Linked DNA regions of Homo sapiens: all the other regions are linked to region 2. The links come from fine-mapping of genetic effects on gene expression. A gene starts in region 2. Each other region holds a variant in brackets. All regions are shown on one strand. Distances are between the middles of the regions. Region 1 has its middle 26 kb from the start of CALCA. Region 2 holds the start of RRAS2 (RAS related 2). Region 3 overlaps COPB1 (coat protein complex I subunit beta 1).

The links. PIP is the estimated chance that this variant, and not a neighbour inherited with it, causes the effect.
Region 1: its variant is the best candidate, but not a certain one, in a credible set for the expression of RRAS2 in lung (GTEx, PIP 0.87).
Region 3: its variant is the best candidate, but not a certain one, in a credible set for the expression of RRAS2 in whole blood (INTERVAL, PIP 0.59).

Annotation. Positions count from the first base shown.
Region 1 is chr11:14,996,611-15,000,753 of GRCh38, reverse strand. No RefSeq gene overlaps it. Among named protein-coding and RNA genes, the nearest start is that of CALCA, 26 kb to the right of the region's middle. The variant A/G (reference allele first, on the strand shown) is at 1,992.
Region 2 is chr11:14,357,235-14,361,377 of GRCh38, reverse strand. It overlaps RRAS2 (RAS related 2), which reads left to right and starts at 2,195. Exons shown (of 6, transcript NM_012250.6): 1 at 2,195-2,615. The coding sequence starts at 2,508. RefSeq lists silencers at 2,096-2,595, 2,666-2,865, 2,906-3,025 and an enhancer at 3,266-3,365.
Region 3 is chr11:14,456,489-14,460,631 of GRCh38, reverse strand. COPB1 (coat protein complex I subunit beta 1) reads left to right here. Exons shown (of 22, transcript NM_001144061.2): 20 at 335-424; 21 at 1,945-2,100; 22 at 2,749-3,120. The coding sequence ends at 2,808. Among named protein-coding and RNA genes, the nearest start is that of COPB1, 41 kb to the left of the region's middle. The variant T/AAT (reference allele first, on the strand shown) is at 2,558.

The DNA.
Region 1 (4,143 bases), 640 kb before region 2:
TTATGTATCTTGAACAAGTGGAATTTATCCCAGATATGCAAAGTTTGTTTAATATTTCAAATCAATCAATGCAATTCAACAAAATAACATTAAAAAAATAAAAATAGAACATCTTAATAGGTGTAGAAAATACATTTGACATAGTCAAATTTATGGTAAAAAGTCTCAGTTTTTATAGAATAGAAGGAATTTGATCAAAACAATCTATAAATACCCTGAAGTTGACATCACATTTACTTGTGAATAAATGAATGCTTTCCCCCAAAGATTGTAAACAAAGCAAAAATGTTTACAACCATCATGTTTATTTAACATTGTACTGGATGTCAAAGTCAATGCAATAAGATAAGAAAAATAAACACAAGTTATACATATTGGAGAGAAAGATATAAAACTGCTTTCATTCACAGATGGTGATACAATGTAAGTACCAAATTTGGAGAAATCTACAAAAAAAAAACCTGTGAGAAATAGTAATAAATCAAAATGTAAAGGACCTACAATAGCCAAAACCATTTTGAAAAAGAATAAATCAGGAGAACTCACACTACTTGTTTTCAAGACTTAATGTAAACTACAGTAATTAAGACAGTGTGGTAATGGAATAAGGATAAATATACAGATCAATGCAACAGAAGAGTTCAGAAATAGAAATATATGCATGTGGTCAACTGATTTTGACAAAAGTTCCAAGCCAATTCAATGAGAAGAGGATAATCTTTTTAACAAATGGTACTGCAACAACTGAATATTCATGTAAGATTAAAAAAAAAAAGAAATCTTGATCCCACACCATACCAAAACATTAACTTGAAAAGGACCATAGACCTAAGCATAAAAGCTAAAACTATAAAACTTAGAGAAGAAAGCGCAGGAGAAAATCTTTGTGACCCTGGAGTTGGTAAGGATTTCTTTACATAGGAAACAAAAAGCATGAAACATTGGACTGCATAAAACTAAAACCTCCTGCTTTTTAAAGAAATGCCACAGGCTGGGAGAAAATATTCATAATACATACATCTGACAAAAACTGATATCTAAATATATATCAGATATGTATAAGTCTCACAATTTATAAGAACTCTTATGACTCAATGTTAGAAGACATCCACTCAGTTAAAAGACAGGCGGAAGGTTTTGACAAACATTCCACAAAAGAAGATACACAAATGGTCAATACACACATCAAAAGATGCTAAGATTATTAGTCATCAGGAAAATGCAAATCAAAACCACAGTGAGATACAAATACACCACTAGTAGAATGGCTAAAAATTTTAAAAGCTGACAATGCTAAGTGTTGAGGAGAATGTGGAACAAGTGGAATTGTCATAAATAATTGACGGGAATGTAAATTGTTACAATCATTTTGGTAAATGGTTTGGCAGCTTATAAAATTAAACATATGCTTATCATGTAATACAGCAATGACACTTCTAGGTATTTACCCAAGAAAAATAAAAACATATTTCCACAAAACAATATGTACAAGATTGTTCACAGATTTTTTTTTATGAAAGACAAAAACTACAAACAGCCAAAATGTCCATCAAGTGAATAAACACAATGTGGTACATTCATACAATGAACTATTACTCAGAAGTAAAAAGAAACAAACTACTGATATACACAACATGGATAGGTTCCAAAAAGAATGCAGATAAAAGAGTATATAATGTATGGTTACGATTATTGGAAACTCTAGAAAACTAATCTAATCTACAATCACAGCAGATCAGTGGAAGTATGGGTGAGGAAAAGGGTGATTGGCTGGGAAGGGGAAGAAGGGAAACTTTTGGGGTGATAAAAATATTCTACATCTTAAATATGGTGGTGATTACATGTGTATACACATTTGTCAAAATTAATCAAACTGTGAGTGCTCTTAAAATGGGTGTATCTGATAGTATATAAATTGTAACTTGGAAAAAATTGCAAGGTAACATATAATATCTGATTCCCAGAATCATACTCCTGAAATAATGTGATAC[A/G]TTTTATGCAAGGCTTTGTTTTAAGTTTCATTCAAATTTTGTGTTAATTCATTCCTGTTTTCCTACTGTAAAAAGTACTATATGCTCTGACAAAATAAAATAATTTTATGACTAAGAAAAATGAGAAGGTATGAGAAAGTATTTTTATAGCAGGGAAAATATTCTTACTGTCTAAAGAAGACATATGCACTAAAAAATGCAAAGTACAGCTTTAATTCATGATAAATTGTATGATCCTGTTATTAAATATTTACTTACAATTCAGCAGTTCCTTAAGCTTATTTTATTCTATTGAATTCAAATATAATTAATGAAGTACATTTAAAAGGCATGTATAGCATGAAACTTAATTATAAAACTATTCTTATTTATCTACTTGCCTACCACCTATGTATCAGTGTTTTTTGTCTGATTTTGTATAGGTAAATGTATGCTTGGAATCTTTCTTTTTTTTATTACATTTTAAGTTCTGGGGTACATGTGCAGAACGTGCAGTTTTGTTACATAGGTATACACATGCTATGGTGGTTTGCTGCACCCATCAACCTGTCAAATACATTAGGTATTTCTCCTAATGCTATCCCTCCCCTAGCCCTTCACCCCTCAATAGGCCCTGGTGTGTGATGTTCCCGTCCCTGTGTCCATGTGTTCTCATTGTTCAACTCCCACTTATGAGTGAGAACATGCGGTGTTTGGTTTTGTATTCTTGTTTTGGTTTGCTGAGAATGATAGTTTCCAGCTTCATCCATGTCCCTGCAAAGGACATGAACTCATCCTTTTTATGGCTGCATAGTATTCCATAGTGTATATGTGCCACATTTTCTTTATCCAGTCTATCATTGATGGACATTTGGGTTGGATCCAAGTATTTGCTATTGTGAATAGTGCCATGATAAACATACATGTGCATGTGTCTTTATAGTAGAATGATTCATAATCCTTTGGGTATATACCCAATAATGGGATTGCTGGGTCAAATGGTATTTCTAGTTCTAGATCCTTGAGGAATTGCCACACTGTCTTCCACAATGGTTGAACTAATTTACCTTCCCACCAACAGTGTAAAAGTGTTCCTATTTCTCCACATCCTCTCCAGCATCTGTTGTTTCCTGACTTTTTAATGATCACCATTCTAACTGGCATGAGATGGTATTTCATTGTGGTTTTGATTTGCATTTCTCTAATGACCAGTGATGATGAGTCTTTTTGCATATGTTTCTTGGCTGCATAAATGTCTTCTTTTGAGAAGTGTATGTTAATATCCTTTGCCCACTTTTTGATGGGGTTGTTTTTTCTTGTAAATTTGTTTTAAGTTCTTTGTAGATTCTGGATATTAGCCCTTTGTCAGATAGATAGAGTGCAAAAATTTTCTCCCATTCTGTAGGTTGCATGTTCACTCCGATGATAGTTTCTTTTGCTGCACAGAAGCTCTTTCGTTTAATTAGATCCCATTTGTCAATTTTGGCTTTTGTTCCCATTGCTTTTGGTGTTTTGGACATGAAGTCTTTGCTCATGCTTATGTGCTGAATGGTATTGCCTAGGTTTTCTTCTAGGATTTTTATGGTTTTAGGTCTTTCGTTTAAGTCTTTAATCCAACTTCAGTTAATTTTTGTATAAGGTGTAAGGAACAGTCCAGTTTCAATTTTCTGCATATGGCTAGCCAGTTTTTCCAACACCATTTATTAAACAGAGAATCCTTTCCCTATTGCTTGTTTGTATGAGGTTTGTCAAAGATCAGATGGTTGTAGATGTGTGGTGTTACTTCTGAGGCCTCTGTTCTGTTCCATTGGTCTGTATATCTGTGTTGGTACCAGTACCATGCTATTTTGGTTACTGTAGCCTTGTAATATAGTTTGAAGTCAGGTAGCGCAATGCCTCCAGCTTTGTTCTTTTTGCTTAGGATAGTCTTGGCTATGCGGGCTGTTTTCTGGTTCCATATGAAGTTTAAAGTAGTTTTTTCCAATTCTGTGAAGAAAGTCAATGGGAGCTTGATGGGGATACCATTGAATCAATAAATTACTTTGGGCAGTATGGCCATTTTCACGATACTGATTCTTCCTATCCAAGAGCATGAAATGTTTTTCCATTTGTTTGTGACCTCTCTTATTTCCTTGAGCAGTGGTTTGTAGTTCTCCTTGAAGAGGTCCTTCAC
Region 2 (4,143 bases):
CTTATGATTTTGTGGGTCAAGTATTCAATAAGGGTCGGGAGTGATGGCTCATGCCTGTAATCCCAGTACATTTTTTTTTTTTGAGACGGCTCTGTCGCCCAGGCGGGAGTGCAGTGGTGTGATCTCGTGATCTCACGATCTTGGCTCACTGTAACTTCCGCTTCCAGCGTTCAAGCAATTCTCCCACCTCAGCCTCCGGAGTGGCTGGGACTATAGGCGTGTACCACGCCCAGCTAATTTTTGTAATTTTTTGTAGAGACGGGTTTTGGCATGTTGGCCAGGCTGGTCTGGAACTCCTGGGCTCAAGCGAGCAATCCGCCTCCCTCGGCCTCCCGAAGTGTTGGGATTACAGGCGTGAGCCACTACAATTTTATTTTGCTCATGATTTTGTGGGTCAAATATTCAAGAAGGGCCGGGAGTGATGGTTCATGCCTGTAATCCCAGCACTTTTTTTTTTTTTTTTTGAGCCCGCATTGTCGCCCAGGCGTGGGTGCAGTGGCGTGAACTTGGCTCACTGTCACTTCCGCGTCCCAGGCTCAAGTGATCCTCCCACCTCAGCCTCCGGAGTAGCGGAGAGTACAAGTGCACGCCACCACTCCGGACTAATTTTTGTATTTTTAGTAGAGATGCGTTTAGCCATGTTGGCCAGGTTGGTCTGGAACTCCTGGGCTCAAGCGATCCGCCCGCCTTGGCCTTCCAAAGTGCTGGGATTACAGGCATGAGCCATTGCGCCCAGCCATCCCAGCACTTTGGGAGTTCGAGACTAGCCTGGGTAACATAGAGAGACCTTGTCTCTTAAAAAAAAAAAAATTACCTGATCTTGATGGCATGTGCCTGTAGTCCCAGCTGCTAGGGAGGCTGAGGTGGAAGGATCACTTGAGTCCAGAAGTTGGAGGTTGCAGTGGGCCATGATTGTGCCACTACACTTCAGCCTGGGTGACAGAGGGATCTTGTCTCAAAAAAGAAAAAAAAAAGATTTTTAAAAAAGGAATTCAGGATGGGCTGGCCTGGATGGGTATTTTTGCTTGGGGTCTCTCACGCAGTTGCATTCAGATGCTAACAGGGGATGCCGTCATTGGAAGGCTCGATTAGGCTGAGTGTCCAAGATGTCTCACTTAGATGGCTGGCAGGTGATGCTGGTGATCTGGTGGGAGCTCAGTGGGACTTTTTTTTTTTTTTTTTAAATGGCATGTTGCTCCTGGCCATCAATCAGACTTCGACTGGCATGCCTACATGTAGCCTCTTTAGCATGGCAGTCTTATGATAGTCAAACTTCTGACTTTGTTCCTCCCGGAGTGAGAATACCAAGAGAACAGCTGCATGGCCTCTTCTGATCTAGCCTGGGAAATTAGGCAGCATCTCTTCTGCTGCATTCTACTGGTTCCAAATGAGTTACCAAGTGAAGTCCAAGAACTTGCAGTCATGTTCCAAGATTGCTGTAAATGCTTCCTGTGTAGCAGCACTGTTTTATGTGCTCATTTAATTCTTATTAAAAACCCCATGAGGCCGGGTGCAGTGACTCACACCTGTAATTCCAGCACTTTGGGAGGCCGAGGCGGGAGGATTGCTTGAGGCCAGGAGTTCAACCCCTCGCACTCACACTCCTCATATCCAATTACTGCACATTTGTCACACATAAACATAGCCACTATGACACTGTACTGACACATACAAAATCTGTCACATTCCGTCTTGCCCATGCAAGCTCAATCACTGACTTATTCTCCATGCTCAGCCACTGTCCCATTCTTCACACTGTCACAACCACCAGCCCATCACACACTCAATTACTGTGACACAGCTCTAATCCTCAATCACTGTCACATACTGTTTTTCACACAAATATGGTCACCATCTGTACTCTTAAAGCAGGGTATGTACTCTCCTATAAAATTGAGTTAATATGCCAACAGCCCTATTTTTCGCACACGCCGTCACATATTGTATTTTTCATCCACACAATCCCTTACATAGACAATTAGGGTGACACACTCTTTCTGCCTTCGTCCCACTCCCAACTGACACCCACTCCCACACTCTCACGCACTCGCTCACTGGCTAGGGATTAGAGCGGTGTGTCCGTGGGGGTCTGAAGCCCGGGTTACCTCCCGAACCTCAGCCCCAAGCGGCGCGGCCCCGCCCCTCCCCGCCCCCTCATGCATATGCAGCACCTCAGCCTGGCAGCCCGGCCCCCAGACGGCCATTTGTGGCGGCGCTGGAGGCTGCGTTCGGCAGGCGCTGCGGAGACGCGTAGAGGAGCGCGCCCCCCGGCCGCTGCCGCCCCTGGCCCGTGCCGTCACCCCGCTTCTCCGCGCCTCGGGCGGTACCCAGCCAGTCCCCAGCGCCGCGCTACCGCGCTGACCGGCCCTCCAGACGCCTCCCGGTACCCGGGACCCCAGCCCGGCCGCTCGCCCGCAGCCCGCCGGCCGCACACGTCCCCGGAGCCGGGCCTAGGGCGGGCGGCAGCGGCGGCTCGGCGCAGTCAGGCTGGGCTCTGTAGCGTCCCCATGGCCGCGGCCGGCTGGCGGGACGGCTCCGGCCAGGAGAAGTACCGGCTCGTGGTGGTCGGCGGGGGCGGCGTGGGCAAGTCGGCGCTCACCATCCAGTTCATCCAGGTACCTGGAGCGGGCCTGCCCGGGGCGCCGGAGCGGCGGCGGGCGGGGGCTGGCGCTACCTGTGGCGGGGCGGCCGCCGCGACCTCGCCCCAGAGGCGCCTCGCGGGCCCGGGCCGGGGCCAGGGGGCGGGAGGGCGCGGGGCCGACTACGCTCCTGCCCTGCGGCCGCAGCGTCGCGCTCCTGCCTCCTCCCGGGCGCGGCGTCGCGGGAGTAGGGCTTCTCAGGAATGTGGTCGGGAGGGCGGAGCTGGAAGGGTGGGAAGCACCGATCCACCTTATTGCTCTGGCCGAGGCCAGAGACCTCCGGGAGAGGCTGGGCCACCGAGCCGGGCTTTACTGCTCCGAGGGTCCGGGCGTGGGGCTGGAGCTGGAGCCCCGCGCGCTGCTTTTCCAGCCGCCTGCGGCCGCGCCTTCACCGTCGGGGCGATAGCGGTGGCAACTTGGCCGCGGCTCCGCGTGGTCTCCGGGCTTCCCCGCGCCGCCTGAGCCGGAGCTGCCCGCTTCAAGTACTGTGTATTTCTTTGTGTGTGTGTTACGCTCTTTTTATAAGTACTCTCTTAGGTAATATGTCCGGGTGGGAGTGTGTGATAATGCCCCGGGGAAATGGTGGCTTCTAGGAAGTTAAAAATGTTCTCTGATGGGGTGAGACCATTTCCTAGGAATTCCTGATGCCGTCCTGCTTCTCGCCGTGCCTAGGTGAAGTTTGGGATGGGCCGGGCTAGGATATGACCGAGTCGTGCGTTCTGTTTTCTAACCACCCTCTCCCCTACCCCCAGCCCTCTCTGGTTGCTAGAGACGGTAAGTCAGGGGTTTGTGGTAAAGAAAAGGGAGGTGGTATTCTTCCTTCTTAGAATTTGCTCTTGGGGAGAGGTTTGAGTAGTCTTTTTTGGGATTTTTAAAACACAAAGCCCCGATGTCTTTCTGCTTTTGTCAACCTAAAAGGTGTGGCATATGCTGGGAGAGAACGAAGGTACCCTGTTATAACAGGAAACAAGGATATTTTTCACAGTATCTAGAGTATGAACGGTGAAATATTTTTGTCTGGTTTCCTTTTCACCCATTTGTCATTAATTGGGATACCTGAATAGCTTATTTCACTTAGTGTTTATAGTGACATTAAAATATTGAGTACTGTAACAAATGTGATTGTCACCTTTCACATTGAGTAAATGAGCAATAATTGCTGCTATAATATTCCCTGGATTACTGCTGCTAAAACCTTTGAATCCAGGAAGAAAGGATGTTTTATGTAATGAGCATTTACAGTATGCTTATTAGTGGGTTAAAAAAATCACTGAGTAAGGGGTGAGATTGGTTTAAGTTTAGCAGGCTACAGAATCAGGGATGCTGTCAGGTTGCTATTTCCCTAGGGCGCAGAGAGATTGTACGTATCTAATGGCAAAGCAAAACAATTTATAGCTAACCCTTTGGGGACTAGTCTGATGGCTGAGGGAGGGTGGGGGTGAGGGGATAAGTGGAGGAGAAGTCTAGGAGTGGGAGAATAATCTTGGGTTACAATATTGGTAGT
Region 3 (4,143 bases), 99 kb before region 2:
GGTGGGAGGATCACTTGAACATGGGAGGTTGAGGCTGCAGTGAGCTGAAATGACGCACTGCACTCTAGCCTGGGTGACAGAGTGAGACCCTGTCTCAAAAAAAAAAAGAAATATTCTATATGCTTCATATTGAATCTCTGTGAAGTTATCTCTATTGGGAAGTACTGATACCAACCTACAGCTTGTTGGATTTTATAGATGTTATTTAGTTTCTTGGTGTCTACTCTTTCCAACCTAAACAGTTGGAACAAGTTTTTAATATGACATACTGGTGATTCACAGCTTTCTCATAGTAAGATTTATGATCTCCTTGACTTTTTTTTCCTCTCTACAGGTGACAGTTAACACCAACATGGTTGATTTAAATGACTACTTACAGCACATATTAAAGTCAACCAATATGAAATGCCTGACTCCAGAAAAGGTAAAATTTGACTAGGAAATTCAGAAATCTGATGGAATGGTAGAGTAGGTTCCTGGCCTTCCTGTATTTCCTCTAGCACATTTTTGTTATTCAATATGCAGTACCATTCTAGGCTATCTAAAAGATGTTATCCCATAGAATGTTGGAATCTGCTTACCTCTTTCTATTGGACTATACCATCCTACTTTTTCCTAGTGCAGTGACCCAACTGAATAGTCAGATTAATTTTTTTTTTATTTTCTTTTCAATCTTCTCCCCCATTCAGCTAGAGGCACATTCTAAAGTAGTTTATGCTGCACATGGTGGTTCATTCCTGTGATCCTAGCACTTTGAGAGGCTGAGGCGGGCAGATCACTTGAGGTCAGGAGTTTGAGACCAGCCTGGCCAATATGGCGAAACCCCATCTCTACTAAAAATACAAAAATTACCCAGGTGTGGTGGCACGTGCCTGTAATCCCAGCTACTTGGGAGGTTGAGGCAGGAGAATCACCTGAACCCCAGGGGGTGGAGGTTGCAGTGAGCCGAGATCACACCACTGCATTCCAGCGTGGGTGACAGAGTGAAACTCTGTCTCAAAAAGATAAATAAAATCGTTTATTTGTAATACTGGATTAGAAAATGTCCATGAGCTCTTCCGTGGGCTCTGATTGTTGGTTAAAATATATGTGCTCAAATACAGAATCGTTGTTATACTGTGACTTTTTGCTATGTTTGTGTATGTATGAAAAAAACGAGAGAGAAAGAAAAATGAAGCTGGAGCTCTAAGGAACTTTTTTCTTTATGTAAAATTTCTATAATGTTATAATATTCATTTTATAAATAAAATAATGTCTGCTACCAAACAAGTAGGTTTTAATTTATATATTAGTTTATTCAGCATATACTGAGTCCAACAAAAGTAGTCTCTTCCTTCATGGCGCTTAAGGTCTGATATGGGAGGCAGTCAAGCAAGTTAAGTAAACAGAATATATAAATACAAATCGGATTAAGAACTATTTATTTAACATCAGATTTATTGAGGTATAATACACAGTAAAATTCACACTTTTTACATGTATAGTTGAGTTTTGACAAACTCATAAGATTATGTAACCACCACCCTGTATGTAAGTACTGTTTTAAGTGATAAATAACCAATGGGGCTGGGCGTGGTGGCTCACACCTGCAGTCCCAGCATTTTGGGAGGCCGAGGCGGGTGGATCACTTGAGGTCAGGAGTTCAAGACCAGCCTGGCCAACATGGTGAAACCCTGTCTCTACTAAAATTACAAAAATTAGCCAGGTGTGGTGGCGAATGCCTGTAATCCCAGCTACTTGGGAGGCTGAGGCAGGAGAATCGCCTGAACCTGGGAGGAAGGTTGCAGTGAGCCGAGATCACGCCACTGCACTCCAGCTCCAAGCTGGACAACAGAGTGAGACTCTGTCTCAAAAAAAAAAAAAAAAAAGTCACCTATGCTGTTTGGTTTTTGCCTCTATGTAGGTATCTGGTAAAGTAATGAATTTATCACAAATTTTTTCCAGGCCCTTTCTGGTTACTGTGGCTTTATGGCAGCCAACCTTTATGCTCGTTCCATATTTGGTGAAGATGCACTTGCAAATGTCAGCATTGAGAAGCCAATTCACCAGGGACCAGATGCTGCTGTTACCGGCCATATAAGAATTCGTGCAAAGAGCCAGGTAACAGTTCCTTTTTTTTTGAGAGTATCTCTGGACTGACAAAGGGGGGAGGAATTTATGACTTTATTATTTCTATATGTAGTATCTTTTTAGCATTAGATGCATATACACATACAATAATAATATACTCTGAATAGAAGTATAACTTTTCTCATTAAAATTTCTCACCTTTTGGGCCCCTCATTCTGGGATATTTGCCTAAAACCAGATTGATTCCTATGGGGTGTTTGTGAAATGGGTTCTCTAGAATTTTTTGAAAGCCAAGGTGTAAATCTAGTGACTAATTAGCTGGGTGTTGTAGCGCACACCCGGTAATCCCAGCTACTCGGGAGGCTGAGGCAGGAGAATTGCTTGAACCCGGGAGGTGGAGGTTGCAGTGAGCTGAGATTGTGCCATTTCACTCCAACCTGGGTGACAGAATGAGACTTCGTCTCAAAAAAAAAAAAAAAAAAAAAAA[T/AAT]CTGGTGACGGCTTGAAAAATCTAGCACTGAAAGGTAATTACCAGTAAAGTTTGGTAAGTCTGTTTGGTATGTCCTTGATTTTATTGTTGATAATGGTGTCATTGAATTGAATTGGGGCTTAATAATATGGAATAACCTACTGATTGTACATAGTTTAAATAATTATAAATATCTTAATTTTTCTTTACAGGGAATGGCCTTAAGTCTTGGAGATAAAATCAACTTGTCACAGAAGAAAACTAGTATATAAAAATAAACAAAAAGTCCTTGAAGCTTTACAGTTAATTTAGGTATGGGCTTACTGGACTCCAACATCTTTTGTACTCTTTCATGCTTATATAGAATCTGAGTTCATGCTGAATACTTTTCAGCCAATAATTTATAGCCTTTCCCTTAAATCAAGATTGAGTTTAAAATTATAGTTTGTCTTTTGTCTTAACAGTTCTGAATGCTGTCCTCAAAGTATATAATGTTTCATGTACCAAGACCCTTTTCACAGTACAATAAACAGATCTATTCATAAATTTTTGTTATTTTATAAATAAATGATTACATAATTTTAGTTATATGGCAATGGATTTCTTTTAGTTGGGTTATAAATTTCTATTATAAATTTAAATTACTGAGTTGTGAATATATGCAGCTTTATTAAGAGAATTTACAAATTCAATGATATAAAATAAGGTAGGCCTTGATTCACTTGGTTGTTTTTTACTTATTTAATATTCCAACATTGCTATCTCTAAAAATGCATTATCATGTTTTGAAGGGATTTGCTCTTGAATTTAGCTCCAGGGAGAAAGTATCAAAATAACTTTTTTTTTTTTTTTTGAGATGGAGTCTGGCTCTGTCACCCAGGCTGGAGTGCAGTGGCGTGATCTTGGCTCACTGCAAGCTCCACCTCCCGGGTTTACACCATTCTCCTGCCTCAGCCTCCCAAGTAGCTGGGACTACAGGTGCCCGCCACCACGCCTGGCTAATTTTTTGTATTTTTAGTAGAGACGGGCTTTCACCATGTTGGCCAGGATGGTCTCGATCTCCTGACCTCGTGATCCGCCCGCCTCAGCCTCCCGGAGTGTTGGGATTACAGGCGTGAGCCACCGCACCCGGCCCAAAATAACTTGAGAAAACAGATCGCTCTGCAGTTTAAAGAAGTATTATGTACCCGAACTGAAATAGATATACTGTTCTTAATTATCCTGAATCATAATGAAGAGTAGATAATCCAAAATAGATTTTTTAATCATTCACATTTAGTTTGGGGTGTTCTATGTTTGTTAGGAATAAAACTGGTTCTAACCAATTACTGAAGCTGGTACTGGGAGGATTCAACTAGAGAGGATTCAAAAAGCTGCCTTTTTCTCTGTTGCCTCCGTGCCTTACTCACATTTAGTTTAGGGTGTTCTATGTTTGTTAGGAATAAAACTGGTTCTAACCAATTACTGAAGCTGGTACTGGGAGGATTCAACTAGAGAGGATTCAAAAAGCTGCCTTTTTCTCTGTTGCCTCTGTGCCTTACTCACTCGTCTCCTTTTCCTCACTTCACACTAGGACTGGGTACCATCACACTGCAGTATAATTCCAA